Regions from separate parts of the Homo sapiens genome. Here region 1 is linked to region 2. The links come from fine-mapping of genetic effects on gene expression. A gene starts in region 2. The other region holds a variant in brackets. All regions are shown on one strand. Distances are from middle to middle. Region 1 holds the start of ICMT (isoprenylcysteine carboxyl methyltransferase). Region 2 holds the start of RNF207 (ring finger protein 207).

Region 1 (8,317 bases), 29 kb after region 2:
GGAATTATAAGTAAGAACCACCATGCCTGGCCTAATCCCAGCACTTTAGAAGGCCAAGGTAGGAGGATGGCTTGAGCCCAGGAGTTCAAGACCAGCATGGGCAACAAAGGAGGAACCATCTCTTTTTTTTTTGAGACAGAGTCTCACTCCATCACCCAGGCTGGAGTGCAGTGGCACAATCTCAGCTCACTGCAACCTCCACCTCCCAGGTTCAAGCGGTTCTCAGGTCTCAGCCTCCCGAGTAGCTGAGACTATAGGCATGTGCCACCAGGCCCAACTAATTTTTGTATTTTTAATAGAGATGGGGTTTTGCCATGTTGGCTAGGCTTGTCTCAAACTCCTGATGTCAAGTGACCCACCCACTTCAGCCTCTCAAAGTGCTGGGATTACAGGCAACCGTCCAGGAGAACCACCTCTACAAAAAATTTAAAAATTAGCCGGACGTGGTGGCAACACCTGTAATGTATTCCAGCTACTTGGGAGGCTGAGGTAGGAGGATCACTTGAGCTCAGGAGGTCAAGGCTGCAGTGAGCCATGATCAGAACACTGCACTCCAGGCTGGGCAACACAGCAAGATCCTGTCTTTAAAAAAAAAAAAAAAAAAAAAAGCTGGGCACGGTGGCTCATGCCTATAATCCCAGCACTTTGGGAGGCCGAGGCGGGCAGATCATGAGGTCAGGAGATCAAGACCATCCTGGCTAACACAGTCAAACCTCATCTCTACTAAAAATACAAACAATTAGCCGGGTGTGGTGGCGGGCGCCTGTAGTCCCAGCTACTCAGGAGGCTGAAGCAAGAGAATCGCTTGAACCTGGGAGGCAGAGGTTGCAGTGACCTGAGATCATGCCACTGCACTCCAGCCTGGGCAACAGGGCAACAGAGTGAGACTCCATCTCAAAAAGGAAAAAAAAAAAAAAAAGGCCAGGCACTGTAGCTCAAGCCTGTAATCCCAGCACTTTGAGAGGCCCAGGAAGGCAGACTGCTTGAGCTCAGTAGTTCAAGATGGCTCTGGGCAACTCGAGAAACCCTGTCTCTACAAAAAAAATACGAAAAGTAGTCAGGCATGGTGGTTCGTGCCTACAGTTCCAGCTACTTGGGAGGCAGAGGTTGCAGTGAACCAAGATCGCACCACTGCACTCTGGCCTGGTCAACAGAGCAAGACTAGGTCTCAAAAAAAAAAAAGAAAGAAAGAAAAGAAAAGAAACGAAACAAGGCCTTTTCTTCAGCCTGAGACAGAACAAACCTCCATGGCTCACACAGCTCACTAACACATGGCCTCGGCCCCATTAATACCTATTTCTGATGAAAACTAGCCAAGCTGCCACATGAGTGACAGAGGGCACTCCCTTCCCTAAGCCCCATCTCTGTCCTCACCCCCTCTGGGGTGCTTCAGATCTATTAATAGGTTGAAGGGGCAGAGAAAGGGAGAGGCACAATGGCTCATGCCTATAATGCTAGCACTTTGCGAGGCTGAGGTGGGAGGATCACTTAAGGCCAAGAGTTTGAGACCTGCCCAGGCAACACAGTAAGACCCTGTCTCTACCAAAAAAAAAAAAAGAAAAAAGAAAACAAACAAACAGAGGCAGAAACAGGATGAAGGGATACAGCAGGTAGCTAACAGCACCAAGAATCACCAAGGACTTACGCACCCAGGTTCTGGGCACATAGTGAAAAGCATTAAGGACTACATTAGTTCTCTTGACTTTTATTAAATTATCACTTGAAACGCGCCAAGAAGAACATGTACCTATTATTTAAAGGAGACCAACAACCTCATGAATACACTGAAAACCACTAATTGTATATTTTGAAATGGTGACTTTTATGCTACGTGAATATCACGTTTAAAATGTTACTTAAAAAAAAAAAAAAGAAAAGCAGTGTCATATTTAATATTATACCTGAGTTCCAATACTCCAGTAAAACCACCCGACGTAAGAAGGATGCCGAAACCAAGCGTACACTCCACTGGTCACCAGAGTATGTGTATCTGATTTTTCATTCTGTACCACGTGGTTGAAATTGGAGCCAGCTGTAAACATGGCCGCCTTCCTCAGACATTCTCCGAAGACCACCATCAGCAGCCCTGTGACACTGAGCCAGGTAATCTGCTTCAGTTCTGTGGGAGAGAGACATCAACGACACACGGGGAGTGAAAACACTGGCCTGAGCTCCCCTTCGCACTGCTTAAAATTAACCTATTTTCCCGAAGACAGAAACAGAAAATGTGCTGCTGGGCAATCAGCATTTGTCATCACATTAAAATTTCATAAGAAAACACATTCCCCTAAGTTATGCTGTTCATCAATTTACTTTAAAACACCAATAAGCACAATGAAAGCATCATGGTAAAGAGATGCTCTCCTGCTACAGCTGATGGGCTCTCTGGTTCACGACCCCCGGCCACATGCTCAGTCCTTCATCTGGGGACAAGTATAGCTAAGAGAAGCAAAAAAGGGTCCAAGGTTTCCACCCTGAATCCCAGGAGCCACATGTATTTCATTTCATTGGCTGTGAGACATTCAATTTCAGAGTGCATTCCACATACGGAGGCTTTTATTTTTTGAGACGGAGTTTCACTCTCATTGCCCAGGCTGGAGTGCAATGGCACAATCTCAGCTCACTGCAACCTCCATCTCCTGGGTTCAAGCAATTCTCCTGCCTCAGCCTCCCAAGTAGCTAGAATTACAGGCATGCACTACCAGGCCCGGCTAATTTTGTATTTTTCGTAGAGACGGGGTTTTACCATGCTGGTCAGGCTGGTTTCAAACTCCTGACCTCATGTGATCCACCCACCTCGGCCTCCCAAAGTGCTGGGATTAAAGGCGTGAGCCACTGCACCCGACCTTGTTAGTAAACTCTTTTTTTTTTTTTGAGATGGGAGTCTCGCTCTGTCACCCAGGCTGGAGTGCAGTGGCGCGATCACGGCTCACTGCAACCTCCGCCTCCCGGATTCAAGCAGTTCTCCTGCCTCAGCCTCCCGAGTAGCTGGGATTACAGGCATGTGCCACTACGCCTGGCTTTTTTGTATTTTTAGTAGAGACGGGGTTTCACCATATTGGCCAGGCTGGTCTCGAACTCCTGACCTTGTGATCCACCCGCCTCGACCTCCCAAAGTGCTGGGATTACAGGCGTTCGCCACCGTGCCCGGCCAGTAAACTCTTACATGAAACGTCTAAATATCATCTGATTATAAAATTAGAATCACAACTACTCAAGGTTGGGGCTTCAAATTAGATGGTGCACTATGTGATGCAAACTTTAAAGCAAAAGGTCAGCACGTCCTCGAGTCAATATCCAGAGGCAGAATTCATGAGCGGAGCTCATCCTTTATAAATAGCTTAGTGAGGATAGAGGTCTGCGGAAAATCGCTTGGGGGAGATTAGACCTGAAAGGTGAATCAATGTCACTGTCCTCAGCCTGAATGGGAGCCACCCTTTTCCCCTCCAGAGGGGGACATAAGGCACACGAACCTGGCCAAAAGATATTTTCAAGTGTGAACTCTAACCAAGAAGAAAGAGCAGCTACTGTATACTCCAGGCTGTGATTCAGGAGAAAGGAATCCAAGGACAGACTTTTGGGATTATTGACTGCTGTCACCAAGTATTCAGAATAGTGGAACAATGACAGGGAGCACATGTACCTATTTAAAGACAAAAAGAGAGTTAAGTTGGGACAAGAGAACCAAGTTAACCATAAGTGCACATCTGGGTCTCCTGAGCTGTCCCTAAGTCTATGAGGCCCTGTTCTCACCTGTCTGAGAGTGGACACAGGTACCCATCTGCAGCATCTACTACCTCAGGTTTGCAAAAAGTGGAGTTTTTAAGGGGCTGTTTTTGTTTCTGGTGTTTTGTTTTGTTTTGTTTGAGACAGAGTCTCGCTGTGTCGCCCAGGCTGGAATGCAACTGCGTGATCTCAGCTCACTGCAACCTCC[G/A]CCTCCCAGGTTCAAGCGATTCTCCTGCCTCAGCCTCTCAAGTAGCTCAGACTACAGGTGCCCACCACCACGCCCAGTTCATTTTTGTATTTTTAGTAGAGACAGGGTTTCGCTATGTTGGCAAGGCTGGTCTCGAACTCCTGGCTTGGCCAGGCTGGTCTTGAACTCCTGACCTCGTGATCTGCCCACCTCGGCCTCCTAAAGTGCTGGGATTACAGGCGTGAGCCACCGCGCCCGGCAAGGGACTGTTTTTGAATGTCACAGGCAAAACAAACCCATAGGTCACAGAGGCATTATGGGCCCTTCTGTCCGTTAAAAATGACACTACACACAATAAAACATGAAAGAGGGAGATAACAACATAAAGGAGTGATGTATGTCGGATACAAAATTTAACAAAACTGAAATAATTCCGGCAAAGAAGGATTAGATGGCTCAAAATATTGATAAGAGGAGATAAAACTTTTTACCTTGAAGCCACTGGTTCATATCCAGGTCAGACTAGAAGGCTCAAGGGACTGAAATCATAGTGTAGGGAAAAATCCTACAGTGGCTGTGGGGATGCACTAGATGTGACCTAATAGAAATTAGAGATGAAAAAGGCCCATGAAGACAAGCCAGAGCCCTGCCCCTGCCCGCCACCGAGGACCTGCACCCCTTCCGGGAAGGGCTGCTCAAGTTACGGAATGCTGTCACCACAGCTGCGGATGACAGCACCTTTGGGGGTGCCAGGGAGATCTGTTTCTGCCTGATTCACAATCAACCCACAGGCACGAAATCACAAGGGCTGAAATGTGAGCAACTAGGGGGAAGCCAGGAGACTTCGTTTCCAGAGAACCCTGAACAGCCTTCTGCCGGTCACAGATGAGACAGGGATGAGGAAATGCCGCTACAGACCCTCTGATCTGTCCACCCTCGCCTGAAAACCAGTATTTCCGAAGGAATTCTTACCAGCCAAAGTGACTCCAAGAAGACTGGCTAAAACTTAGCAGCGTGCCGCAGCCGAACACAAACCCCAGGAAACAAGCTCGGATGGCTATCTGAAAGGAACCCAAGAGAAGCTCAGTCATTCACAGTCCTCAGAGTACAGATCTGGGCTGCTGACCTTCCCGGAATAGGCAACCCACAGGCAAGCAGATAGAGCCGATTTGCTGAGGTTGAAAGGGAGAAGTGGGCGACCTGGGTTCAAATTCTGCACCCACCGCTCTCTGGCTGTGTGGCCTCCCAAATTATTTAACCTCTCTGAGCTTGCTTCCCCATCTACAGCCAGGGGATAACAGTACCTACCTTTTAGGACTGCAGTAAGGATTACCCACGTAAAACACTTAAGACTAACTGCTACCTACATTTTAGCTGTCATTATTATTATTATTCGTGATTACTATTCAGGGCTGTAGGAAAACTGCTTAAGCCTAGTTTATGAGGTCAGGGCACCCGGGCCTGTGCGCCCAGCCCCACCCACGTCACTGCGGGGCCTTTGACCTGAGACAGGGCAGCAGGTAGGTCTCTGCACCTTAAGTTACATAAAAGCACTCGCGGGCTCGCTCACTCCACCCCACGCGCACCTGCTGAGCTGCACAAGCTGCAATTTAACAACCCACTCCTCGGGTGCAGGGCGCCCGAGCCCGGAGAGAGAGGGTCCCCTCCTGCGACCTGAACTCGCGGATGAAGAGCGCGCGCGTGGGAGGCCACTGCGGGCCCGGGGAGAAAGGTGCCCACGCGCCGCGCCAAGCGGACCGCCGCCCGCCCCGCCGGCCCCCGCCGGCCCCCGCCGGCCTGCACCTGGTAGCGAGGCGGCCGATAGAGCAGCAGCAGCAGCGCGTTGAGCCCGGCCACGTAGAGCGCCAGCCCGGTGCGGCCCTGCAGGCCGGCGCGCGTGAGCAGCGGCAGCGCGAGCACCGAGGCGCCCAGCAGGAAGGTGGCGAGGCTGAGACGCGCCTCAGAGCCCGGCGGAGCCCGCGCCGCGCAGCCCGCCATGGCGCCGGGCGGCGGACTAGCGGGCGGCGGCGCCGGCTGTAGCCCGGAGAAACGCGCCGGCTGCGCCTGCGCACTGTGCCGCCGATGCCGGCCCGGGAAGGGCAGCTGCCCGCAGCTGCGCGCCGCCTGCCAGTTCTCGCGAGAACTCCGGCCCGCCCTGTTGCTGTCCGGAATTTGGCGGGAGCGCCCCGCCCGCCCGCCCCTCCCCGCCCCTCGGGGACATCCGGGCTCTGAGCCAGACTCTGTGCCGGGCGGGGGCCGGGAAGTGGTGGGAGAAGTCGCCGCCCGCGTCTGTCCAAACTTAGTCCCAAACTCAGGAGGTTCCTGTCCCAAGAAGCAATGTAAAGTTTGAAACGAGCCGAGCGCGGTGGCTCACGCCTGTAATCCCAGCACTTTGGGAGGCCGAGGCTGGCGAATCATTTGAGGTCAGGAGTTCGAGACCAACCTGGGCAACATGGGGAAACGCCGTCTATACTAAAAATACAAAAATTAGCTGGGCGTGGTGGCGCACGCCTTTAACCCCAGCTACTTGGTGAGGCTGAGGCAGGAGAATCGCTTGATCCGGGGAGACGGAGGTTGCAGTGAGCCGAGATTGTGTCACTGCACTCCAGCCTGGGTGACAGAGTGACACTCCATCTCAAAAAAAAAAATTTTGAAACGGCCGCACCCTCGCCGGCCCTGCGTCGTCCCCGAAAACCAGACGCCCTGGGGCGCGGGGCCAAGTGCGGCGACCTCCTGCCCTCCCTCTGCGGCTCCCTGGAAACCGGCCTGGACAACGGCACCTGGGCATCCATGCAACGGGACCACCGCCCGCTTAAATTCCTGTTGTGGAACAAGGCTGGACGGTGATGGGAATGCTCAGGATATGTTAGGTTTTCTTTTTTTTTTGAGACGGAGTCTCGCTCTGTCGCCCAGGCTGGAGTGCAGTGGTGCGATCTCGGCTCACTGCAAGCTCCGCCTCCCGGGTTCACGCCATTCTCCTGTCTCAGCCTCCCGAGTAGCTGGGACTACAGGCGCCCGCCACTGCGCCCGTCTTATTTTTTTGTATTTTTAGTAGAGACGGGGTTTCACCGTGTTAGCCGGGATCCATCTCCTGACTTCGTGATCCGCCCGCTTCGGCCTCCCAAAGTGCTGAGATTACAGACGTGAGCCACCGCGCCCTGCCTATATTAGGTTTTTAAATAGCAGGAGGCAAAGCTTTTCGGTGTGATCCTGACTTCACTTGGGGAAAAAGGGCAGGTATCTGAGCCTGGGAAAATGATCAAGCTATCAGCCAAAATGGTATAACGCCGACTATATATGTACCTTTTTTTTTTCTTTTTTTCTTTTTTAGACACAGGGTCTCACTGTGTTGGCCAGGCTGGAGTGCGGCAGTCTGGAACTCCTGGGCCCAAGTGATCCTCCAATCAGCCTCACAAAGCACTGGAATTACAGGTATGAGCCACCACCCCTGGCCTATCTTTAGGTAGTGGCACTCTTGGTGATTTTTATTGTCTTTATCTGTTTTTGCAGTTTCCATACTGCCTACAATGAACACAGGATACTTTTTTTTTTTCAGATGGAGTTTTGCTCTTGTTGCCCAGGCTGGAGTACAATGGCGCAATCTCGGCTCACTGCAACCTCCGCCTCCGGGTTCAAGTGATTCTCCTGCCTCAGCCTCCTGAGTAGCTGGGATTACAGGAGCCTACTACCACGGCCAGCTAATTTTTTTGTATTTTTAGTAGAGACGGGGCTTTACCATGTTGGCCAGGCTGGTTTCAAACTCCTGACCTCAGGTGATCCACCCGCCTCGGCCTCCCAAACTGCTGGGATTATAGGCATGAGCCACCGTGCCCGGCCCATAGATTACTTTTATAATCAAGTTTTTCTTTACTTTTTAAAGAGTAAATTCTCTCACCTCAGGTAGCTCAGAGAGCTGCGCTGGAGGAGAAAAGCCAGTAAGTGAACAACTGGAATAAACTCTGCAGGGGTGGCAGTGGGGGCAGAAGGAGAGCAAGGATGGGGAGCAAAGAGGGACCCCAGGGGAGGCCCTCAGCTTGGAGGGCGGCAGGGCGAGGAGGCTGCGAGGAACAGACGCCAGAGCTAGGCCTTGGGGCCCTTGGGGATGGACAGCCTGCCCTCCATTGGAAATGAGATCAAGGAGGGAGTGAGGGCTTGGCGTTTGAAAGGCACAGAGGCGGGAGGGAGAAAGGCTGAGAAGGGATGGGGACAGGCCCTCGGGGAGGCTGGCATCAAGTGGTGGGTCAGCGAGAGAGGCAGGCGGTCTGTGAGCCCTGCATCTGAGCCCCTCTCCACTCTTGTCCCTGCAGGTCCTGGCAGGAGCTCTGGTACCTGGGAAGCTGGATGGAGAGCCTGGGCCAGAATCCCGGACCCCTCACCTCTGCGGCCTAGCTTTGTGACCTTGGC
Region 2 (8,317 bases):
ACCAGTGGTAGCTACTTCCTGCAGTTGCTACTGTTAGTATTATACCCCGACAGTTACCTAAACACATCTTTATACCTAGTTAACAATCCTTTATATTAAATTCTCTCAGTTAAAAACTATAATGTGTTGTCTTTTGACTGGACCCTGGCTGATAACGGACCCTAAGCGAGCCCTCAGGGCTACTGACAATCCTAAATCTCTCCCCCAAGGGACTATTTCCCTTTCTTGTTGTTTTTAATAGAGACAGGGTCTTGCTCTGTCACCAAGGCTGGAGTGCAGTGGTGTGATCATAGCTTACTGCAGCCTCAAACTCCTGGGCTCAAGTGATCCTCCCACCTTGGCCTCCCAAATTGCTGGGATTACAGGCATAAGGCACTGCACCTGGCCCAAAAGACTATTTCACACCTCAGTCATAATGCCAGCCCCTTCTTCCTAAACCTCCCTCTCAGCAGTTGACTTTTATTGTTCTTTCCTTTTTCTTTCTTTTTTTTTTTTTTTTTTCTGAGACAGGCTCTCGCTCTGTTGCCCAGGCTGGAGTGCAGTGGTGCGAATACGGCTCACTGAAGCCTTGACATCCTAGGCTCCAGCAATCCTCCCACCTCAGCCTCCTGAGTAGCTAGGACCACAGGTGTGCACCACCATGCCCAGCTGCATGTTTTTTTGTTTTGTTTTGTTTTGCTGTTGTAGAGAGTTGGTGTCTCACTATGGCTATGTTGCCCAGGCTGATCTAGAACTCCTGGGCTAAAGCAATCTTCCTGCCTCAGCCTCCCAAAGTGCTAGGATTACAGGCGGGAGCCATCACACCCAGCCTCCTCCCGTCCTTATCTACACTTGATCTTTAGACAAGACCCACATGCTCTTCCCTTTAAATATGACTCCCCAGGCCAATGTGTGCAGCCTCTACCCCTCCCTGGACTCCCCACAGGTACAGCCAGTGGCATCCTTGGCATCTCTAGACTAGTGTCCCGTAGATCACCCTGACCCTCATGAGCCCATTCTCACCTCTTCACCCTCACCCCCACCTCCCCACACTCAAACCCTCATCCCTCACCCCACACCCCCTGCCCCGCCCCCACCTCTCCAGCCTCACCCCCATCCTCCATCCTCACTCCCATGCCATGTTCAGCCCTACTCCCCACCCTGAGCTCCTTCATCTCCAGCCACATTGATCTGCTAGTCTCTAAATGTCTTCCCATTTCTGGGGCTTTGCACTTGCTCTTGCCTCTGCTTGGAACTTTTCCCAGCTTTTCTATTTTTGTTTTTCTTTCGAGACAGGGTCTTACTCTATCACCCAGGTGGGACTGCAGAGGTGCAGTCACAGCTCACTGCAGCCTCAACCTCCTGGCTCAAGCAATCCTTCCACCTCAGCCTCTCAAGTAGCTGGGACTACAAGCACGAGCCACCATGCCCAGCTAAGTTTTAGTATTTTTTATAGAGGGGGGAGTCTTGCTATGTTGCCCAAGCTGGTCTTGAACTCCTGGGCTCAAGAGATTCACCCACGCTGGCCTCCCAAAGTGCTGGGATTACGGGTGTGGGCCACTGCGCCCAGCCTTCCTGGCTTTTCTTAATTTCTTATCCTCTGGGGGTCTCAAGCTCAGTTCCCCCTCTCTGCTCATGGTTACCTAGTGTGGTCCTCAGCTCGAGCCCCTCCCAACTGCCCTCCATCTCATCATCCTTATTTATTTATTTAATTTTTTAGGCGGAATCTCACTCTGTCACCCAAGCCGGAGTGCAGTGGCGCCATCTCGATTCTCCTGCCTCAGCCTCGCAAGAGTAGCTGGGATTACAGGCATGCACCACTACACCCAGCTAATTTTTCCTTTTTTTCCTTTTTTTTTTTTTTTTTTTTTTTTTTTGAGACAGAGGTCTCACTCTGTCACTCAGGCTGGAGTGCAATGGCGCAATCTCGGCTCACTGCAACCTCCACCTGCCAGGTTCAAGCAATTTTCCTGCCTCAGCCTCCGAAGTAGCTGGGACTCCAGGTGCGTGCCACCATGCCTGGCTAATTTTTTGTACTTTTAGTAGAGACAGGGTTTCACCATGCTGGCCAGGCTGGTCTCGAACTCCTGACCTCGTGATCCACCCGCCTCGGCCTCCCAAAGTGCTGGGATAACAGGCATGATCCATCGTGCCCAGCTAATTTTTGTATTTTTAGTAGAGACGGGTTTTCACTATGTTGGCCAGGTTGGTCTCGAACTCCTGACTTCAGGTGATCCGCCCACCTCAGCCTCCCAAAGTGCTGAGATTACAGGTGTGAGCCACGGCACCCGGCCTATCATCCTTATGATTTTCTTCCAAGCAGTTAATGCAGCCTGTCATTATTTGTTAATCTGTGTACTTGACTAACCTTGGCTGGTGTGTTCCCTTCTATGTGCCCATGGTAGATGCTCTGTAAATACTAGTTGAACAGATGCAGACATGAATGAATGGATGAATGAAGCACTCACCTCCTACCGGGAAACTAATGCATCATTCCTTAACAAAGCACCTACGCGGTTTTGTATACCAGCTCCACCACTTTCTGGGGTAATATTTTCTACTTTTTAAGAGTGTTCTCCAGATTAAATGAGTTAATATAAGTTAAACAGCTTAGAATAAAATATTGGCCCATATCTCCCCACCCTCCCTCCCCTTGTACAAAAAAAAAAAAAAAAGGCCCGGTGTGGTGGCTCACGCCTGTAATCCCAGCACTTTGGGAGGCAGAGGCGGGCAGGTCACCTGAGGTCGGGAGTTCGAGACCAGCCTGACCAACATGGAGAAACCCCGTCTCTACTAAAAATACAAAATCAGCCAGGCGCGGTGGCACATGCCTATAATCCCAGCTACTCGGGAGGCTGAGGCAGGAGAATCGCTTGAACCCGGGAGGCGGAGGTTGTGGTGAGCTGAGATGGCGCCATTGCACTCCAGCCTGGGCAACAAGAGCAAAACTCCATCTCAAAAAAAAAAAAAAAAAAAGAATCTTGGCCCATAAAAGAATGTTGGCCTATAAACACATAAACATTAGCCATTGCTACTACTGTCATTATGATTTGGTCCACAAATAGAACCAGGGCTAGGGACCGGGCATGGTGGCTCACGCCTGTAATCCCAGCACTTTGGGAGGCCAAGGTGGGGCGGATCACGAGGTCAGGAGATCGAGACCATCCTGTGAATGGTGAAACCCTGTCTCTACTAAAAATACAAAAAATTAGCCGGCCGTGGTGGCGGGCACCTGTAGTCCCAGCTACTCGGGAGGCTGAGGCAGGAGAATGGCGTGAACCCAGGAGGCGGAGCTTGCAGTGAGCCGAGATTGCGCCACTGCACTCCAGCCTGGGTGACAGAATGAGACTCAGTCTCAAAAAAAAAAAAAAGAACCAGGGCTAGGGACAGTCCTCAAAAGAACAGCTAGTTTCTCTCTAGAATTCACTTCCTTCTCCTAGCAAACTCCTACTCCTACGCATCCTTCAAAACCCAGCTCAAGGCCAGGCAAGGCGGCTCACGTCTGTAATCCCAGCAACTTTGGAAGGCCAAGGCAGGCAGAATGCTTGAGCCCAGGAGTTGGAGACCAGCCTGGGTAACACAGCAAAACCCCCGATGTGTGCAGCACATTGTACTTTTTATTTTTCTACTAAAAATACAAAAAAAAAAAAAAAAAAAAGGCTGGGTTCAGTGGCTCACACCTGTAATCCCAGCACTTTGGGAGGCCAAGGTGGGTGGATCACCTGAGGTCAGGAGTTCGAGACCAGCCTGGTCAACATGGTGAAACCCCGTCTCTACTAAAAATACAAAAAATTAGCCGGGCATGGTGGTGCGTGGTTGTAGTCCCAGCTACTTGGGAGGCTGAGGTGGAAGGAAGCCAAGGCTGCAGTTAGATATGATCACGCGGCGACAGAGTGAGATCCTGTCTTAAACAAAACAAAACGAAAACAGCTCAAATATCTCCGAGCTTTTTCTAAGCCTTTATTGAGCACTACTGTGGGTCAGGCTCTGGGCTTGACTTTGTAATCGCAAGAGGGGCAGAAACGGGCTGCTCTCAGGACACTCAGGAGAACACGGGCGGAGAAAGCTCACTGATCACGTCGACCTAGCAAGCGAGCGCACGCTGGAGAAAACGCTGGGATCAACACGCATCTGCCAGGCCCAGACGGCAGAGGGGGCACTGCTGGAAAGGCCGGGAACCTCCCCTCTCAACCTCCCACCCAAACCCATCCCTCTTTTGGGAACTTGGCAGGCAATGAGGATAGGGCCTTAATTAAGTGGACGCCCAGTATGTGTATTTCACGTGCGTTATTCCACTGGGGCCTCACCCATTATCAGGACACCAGTTCTATTTTAACCCAGCGCTGAGGCTCTGAGAGGTCAGTAACATGGCCAAGAGCTCACAACCAGCGAAAGGCAGGGCTGGGATTACAGGGCGTCTCACTCCGCCTCCCAAGCGCTGGAAAGTCGGTGGAGGGGCGTCCGCTGCTCTCTGGCGCCCCCAATTGGCCGCCGAGGAAATGAGGCGGCGATGACCTGTTCAGACCCAAATGGGATGGAAGAGTGGGGATTAGCGGGGGTAGGGGGTGGGGTTTGGACTCTTTTTTTTTTTTAAGACAGTCTGGCTCTGTAGCCCAGGCTGGAGTGCAGTGGCGCGATCTCGGCTCACTGCAACCTCCGCCTCCCGGGTTCAAGCAGTTCTGCCTCAGCCTCCCGAAGGGCGCCACCATGCCTGGCTAATTTTTGCATTTTTAGTAGAGACAGGGTTTCGCCATGTTGGCCAGGCTGGTCTCGAACTCCTGACCTCAAGCTATCTGCCCGCCTCGGCCTCCCAGAGTGCCGAGATTACAGGCGTGAGCCACCGCGCCCGGCCTACCCTTGAAGACCCCGCAGCCAAGGTCCTCCGGCCCCGCTCTGCGCGGCGCTCTGGTCTTGGGGCTCCGGACTCTGTCATGCCGGGCAGGGGCCAGTCCGATCCTTGCACCCTTGCCTGGCACCGTCCCTGGAGCCTTGGCGTCCTGGCCTCTCCTCCCCGCGGGCTGGAGGTGGAGTGGCCGGGCCGGAACCAGTGCGCAAAGCAGATGGCGAGCGCGGAGGTCGGTTCGGCCCCGCCGCGCCTCAAGGCAGCAGCCACCCTGGGGAAGGTGGATGCCGGAAGAGGCGTCGCCTGCGGGTCACCCAGAGGACACCCGGCGGGGAATTCCGAGGGTGGGAGTGAGGAGAGGTAGGAGAGGCCACGGCAGAGGGAGGCCCCGCGCAGAGTGGGAACCATCGCCCGGTGCGGGCCTGAACTTCCAGGGCCGGCTACTCCTCGGCAGAGCGACCGCGCGGTGTCTCAGAGCGCGGCCCGGAGCCGCACTAAGAGCGCTGGACGGCGGGAGAGAGGCTCGGAGGACCGGTAGCTCCCAGCAAAGCGGCCCAGCGGGTAGGTACAAGGCCCCGCCCCTCGCCAGTCCTCACTGCCTGTTCTCCCTGCGCCGGGGAGCTCCAGGCCCCAGCCCTAACCTGGGCCCTAGCGGCTCCCCACTCCATGACCTCTGGACGCCCAGTCGGGTCCAGGCGCGATAGGGAGGGCGCGGGCGCCCGGGCAGAGGGGCCGCGGGAGCTCAAGCGGGGCTCCGTGCGTGCCCCAGCCGCCCGCTTGCGCTGTCGCTGCAGATGTCGGGAGCTATCTTCGGGCCCCTGGAGGGCCCGAGCTCCCTGGATGCCCCGAGCATCCACCCGCTGGTGTGCCCGCTGTGCCACGTGCAGTACGAGCGCCCGTGTCTTCTGGACTGTTTCCACGACTTCTGTGCCGGCTGCCTGCGTGGCCGCGCGACCGACGGCCGCCTCACCTGCCCGCTGTGCCAGTAAGTGTCCCAAAGTTCCCCAAAACCCCCCAGACCCCATCCCCCGGGCCCAAGGTTGGCTCTGCCCGAGCTGGGACCCAGGTGCCAGGAGAGTAAGGCTCCAACTTCAGGCAGAACGACTGGGAGATACTGCACCCGGTCCTTAGCTCTCCCCGCCAGAAGTTGCAGGCTTCGGTCCATTTTATAGATCAGCTTAACTGAAGCCTGGAGATTGCAGTTACTGGCCCAAGACCTCCCATCAAAAGTCAGAGGGTAAGGGCGGGGCTCCAGCACTGGTCAGGACGCTCCCGGTTACTCGCTTGGGGGTCCTAGAAGTCTTAGGTCCACAAAACCACAGTTTCAGTTATGTGGGCTCAAGGAACCCAGGAGTGGCTCTGATTTGCCCAATGCCGTGAGAAGATGTCGAGGAGCAGCTTCTGCTTTTGATACTAGGGGACCAACCCCACTGTCTGCAGGAGTGCCCAGGACTGGGCAAGGGTAGGGACCAGGGCAGGGTGAGTGCTGGCTGTGATATTTATAGCAGACCCCAGAGCTGTGGTGCACCCCACCTCCCAACACAGCTATTTTTAGCTCCAGCCTGGAATGTGAGGGGTGGGGGTGGGGAGCCCTGGGGAAGGGGTATCAGAATCTCGGGGCCTGGGCTTCTCTGCAGACACCAGACGGTGCTGAAGGGTCCCAGCGGGCTCCCGCCGGTGGACCGGCTGCTGCAGTTCCTGGTGGACAGCTCAGGGGATGGCGTGGAGGCGGTGCGCTGTGCCAACTGTGACCTGGAGTGCAGCGAGCAGGCAGGGGCGGCAGGGCGGGTGGGTGAGGAGCAGAGGGTACCCGGTTGCACAGTCCCCAATGCTTGCACATGCACTCAGCATGTCTTCAGAGGACGACCTGGCAGTGGATTCTCCAGCACCTCCCTAGGGCACCTTGGCCCCAAATGTGAACCCCATTATACCGGTGGGGAGACTGAGGTCCAGAACAAGGGACTTGAGCCAGTGTCCAGACAGTGGCAGAGGCTAAGGCCATTCGATCTGGGGAGAGCTCACTGGTCCCCAATTCAGGGTGGAGTTGTGGACCTGCACAGGAGGGGCAGTCCAGTTTGCAGGCCTGGGCCGACCCTGAAGGGCCTCTGCTACCCAAGTGGCATAGAAGCAGCTACAGCCCAGGGGAGGTGGGGACAGCATGCTGTTCCCTCTGGGCTGTAAAAGGCACAGGGGACTCTGGCCTGCGGAGGCCAGAAAATGTATCGGGAATCCCAGGAGGACGGCCCGACTGGGGCAAAAGCTCCAGCGTTCTGGACAAGTGCTGAGCAATGTGTGACCCAGACGTACAGAGAGGATTAGCAGGAGGTAGGGACTGCAGGTAGGGCCTGTTATGTCCATCATTGCATGCGTCCATACCAGGGCTGCAGGCCAAGCCCTGGAATCCCAGCCCTGGGTCTGGCTTGGGGAGGAGAACCTTAAAGCCCTCACTGCTCTTCCCCTCCCCCCGCCCCCAAGTGTGACTCCAGATGGCCAGGGTGTACACCACCTTTCGGCCACTATTGAGTGTGCCAAGGGGGCCGTGAGAGGCCCTCACACCCTTTTGTTGCAGGTAAAAAAAAAAAAATTTTTTTTTTTGAGACGGATTCTTGCTTTATCGCCCAGGCTGGAGTGCAGTGGCGCCAACTTGACTCACAGCAACCTCTGCCTCCCGAGTTCAAGTGATTCTTCTGCCTCGGCCTCCCGAGGAGCTGGGACTCCAGGCGCCCGCCACCATGCCCAGCTAATTTTTGTATTTTTATTAGAGACAGGGTTTCGCCATGTTGGCCAGCTCCTGACCTCAGGTGATCCGCCCGCCTCGGCCTCCCAAATTGTTGGGATTACAGGCGTGAGCCACCGCGCCCGGCCTCGGTAAAATGTTTTATAAAGGCAGTTTCTGCCCTCTCCCCGCGTCCCCCACCCCCCTCCACGGACCTACTTACCCAGCCTCTGAGCCGCAGTGCCCTCCTCTGTAAAGTGGGTATATCAGAGCGCCAAGTGCCTGGATTACAGGAAAGGGCTGCGTTTAGCTGCGCACCCGGCCACGGCTGGGACAAACACGCGCAGTGACACGCGGCGGCTGCGGTTCCCGCGCTGGCCGCGGTCGGGCTCTGGCGCTCCTGAGCCCGCGCTCGGCCCGCAGGACGTGGAGACCACGTACTTCTGCAACACGTGCGGACAGCCCCTATGCGCGCGCTGCCGCGACGAGACGCACCGAGCACGCATGTTCGCGCGCCACGACATCGTGGCCCTGGGTCAGCGAAGCCGCGACGTGCCCCAGAAGTGCAGTGAGTGAGGCTTGCGGGGCCGGGGACTTGGGGGTGGGGGCGGGGCGGGCACTGACCGGAGCCCTCACCACCGCCCGCCGCCCCCGCAGCGCTGCACGCAGAGCCCTACCTCTTGTTCTCCACCGACAAGAAGTTGCTGTTGTGCATCCGCTGCTTCCGCGACATGCAGAAGTGCGTACAGGGGACGCGAGGGGAGGGGGCTGGGGGCCGC

Evidence for each region.
Region 1: its variant is fine-mapped to the expression of RNF207 in sigmoid colon (GTEx, PIP 0.96). The same link has a PIP of 0.9 or more in esophagus mucosa.

The regions. Positions count from the first base shown.
Region 1 is chr1:6,230,001-6,238,317 of GRCh38, forward strand. ICMT (isoprenylcysteine carboxyl methyltransferase) reads right to left here and starts at 5,964. Exons shown (of 5, transcript NM_012405.4): 1 at 5,717-5,964; 2 at 4,886-4,974; 3 at 3,474-3,643; 4 at 1,902-2,119. The coding sequence starts at 5,911. ICMT-DT (ICMT divergent transcript) reads left to right here and starts at 6,240. Exons shown (of 5, transcript NR_103534.1): 1 at 6,240-6,336; 2 at 6,966-7,150; 3 at 7,245-7,345; 4 at 7,814-7,848; 5 at 8,221-8,317. RefSeq lists silencers at 5,633-5,692, 5,903-6,232 and an enhancer at 6,197-7,169. The variant G/A (reference allele first, on the strand shown) is at 3,935.
Region 2 is chr1:6,200,920-6,209,236 of GRCh38, forward strand. It overlaps RNF207 (ring finger protein 207), which reads left to right and starts at 5,200. Exons shown (of 18, transcript NM_207396.3): 1 at 5,200-5,383; 2 at 5,617-5,807; 3 at 6,460-6,592; 4 at 7,962-8,106; 5 at 8,196-8,277. The coding sequence starts at 5,617. It overlaps RNF207-AS1 (RNF207 antisense RNA 1), which reads right to left and starts at 4,861. Exons shown (of 3, transcript NR_125997.1): 1 at 4,835-4,861; 2 at 4,287-4,494; 3 at 3,921-4,063. RefSeq lists silencers at 4,230-4,524, 5,473-5,642, 7,790-8,084, 8,129-8,198 and enhancers at 4,576-5,395, 5,043-5,272.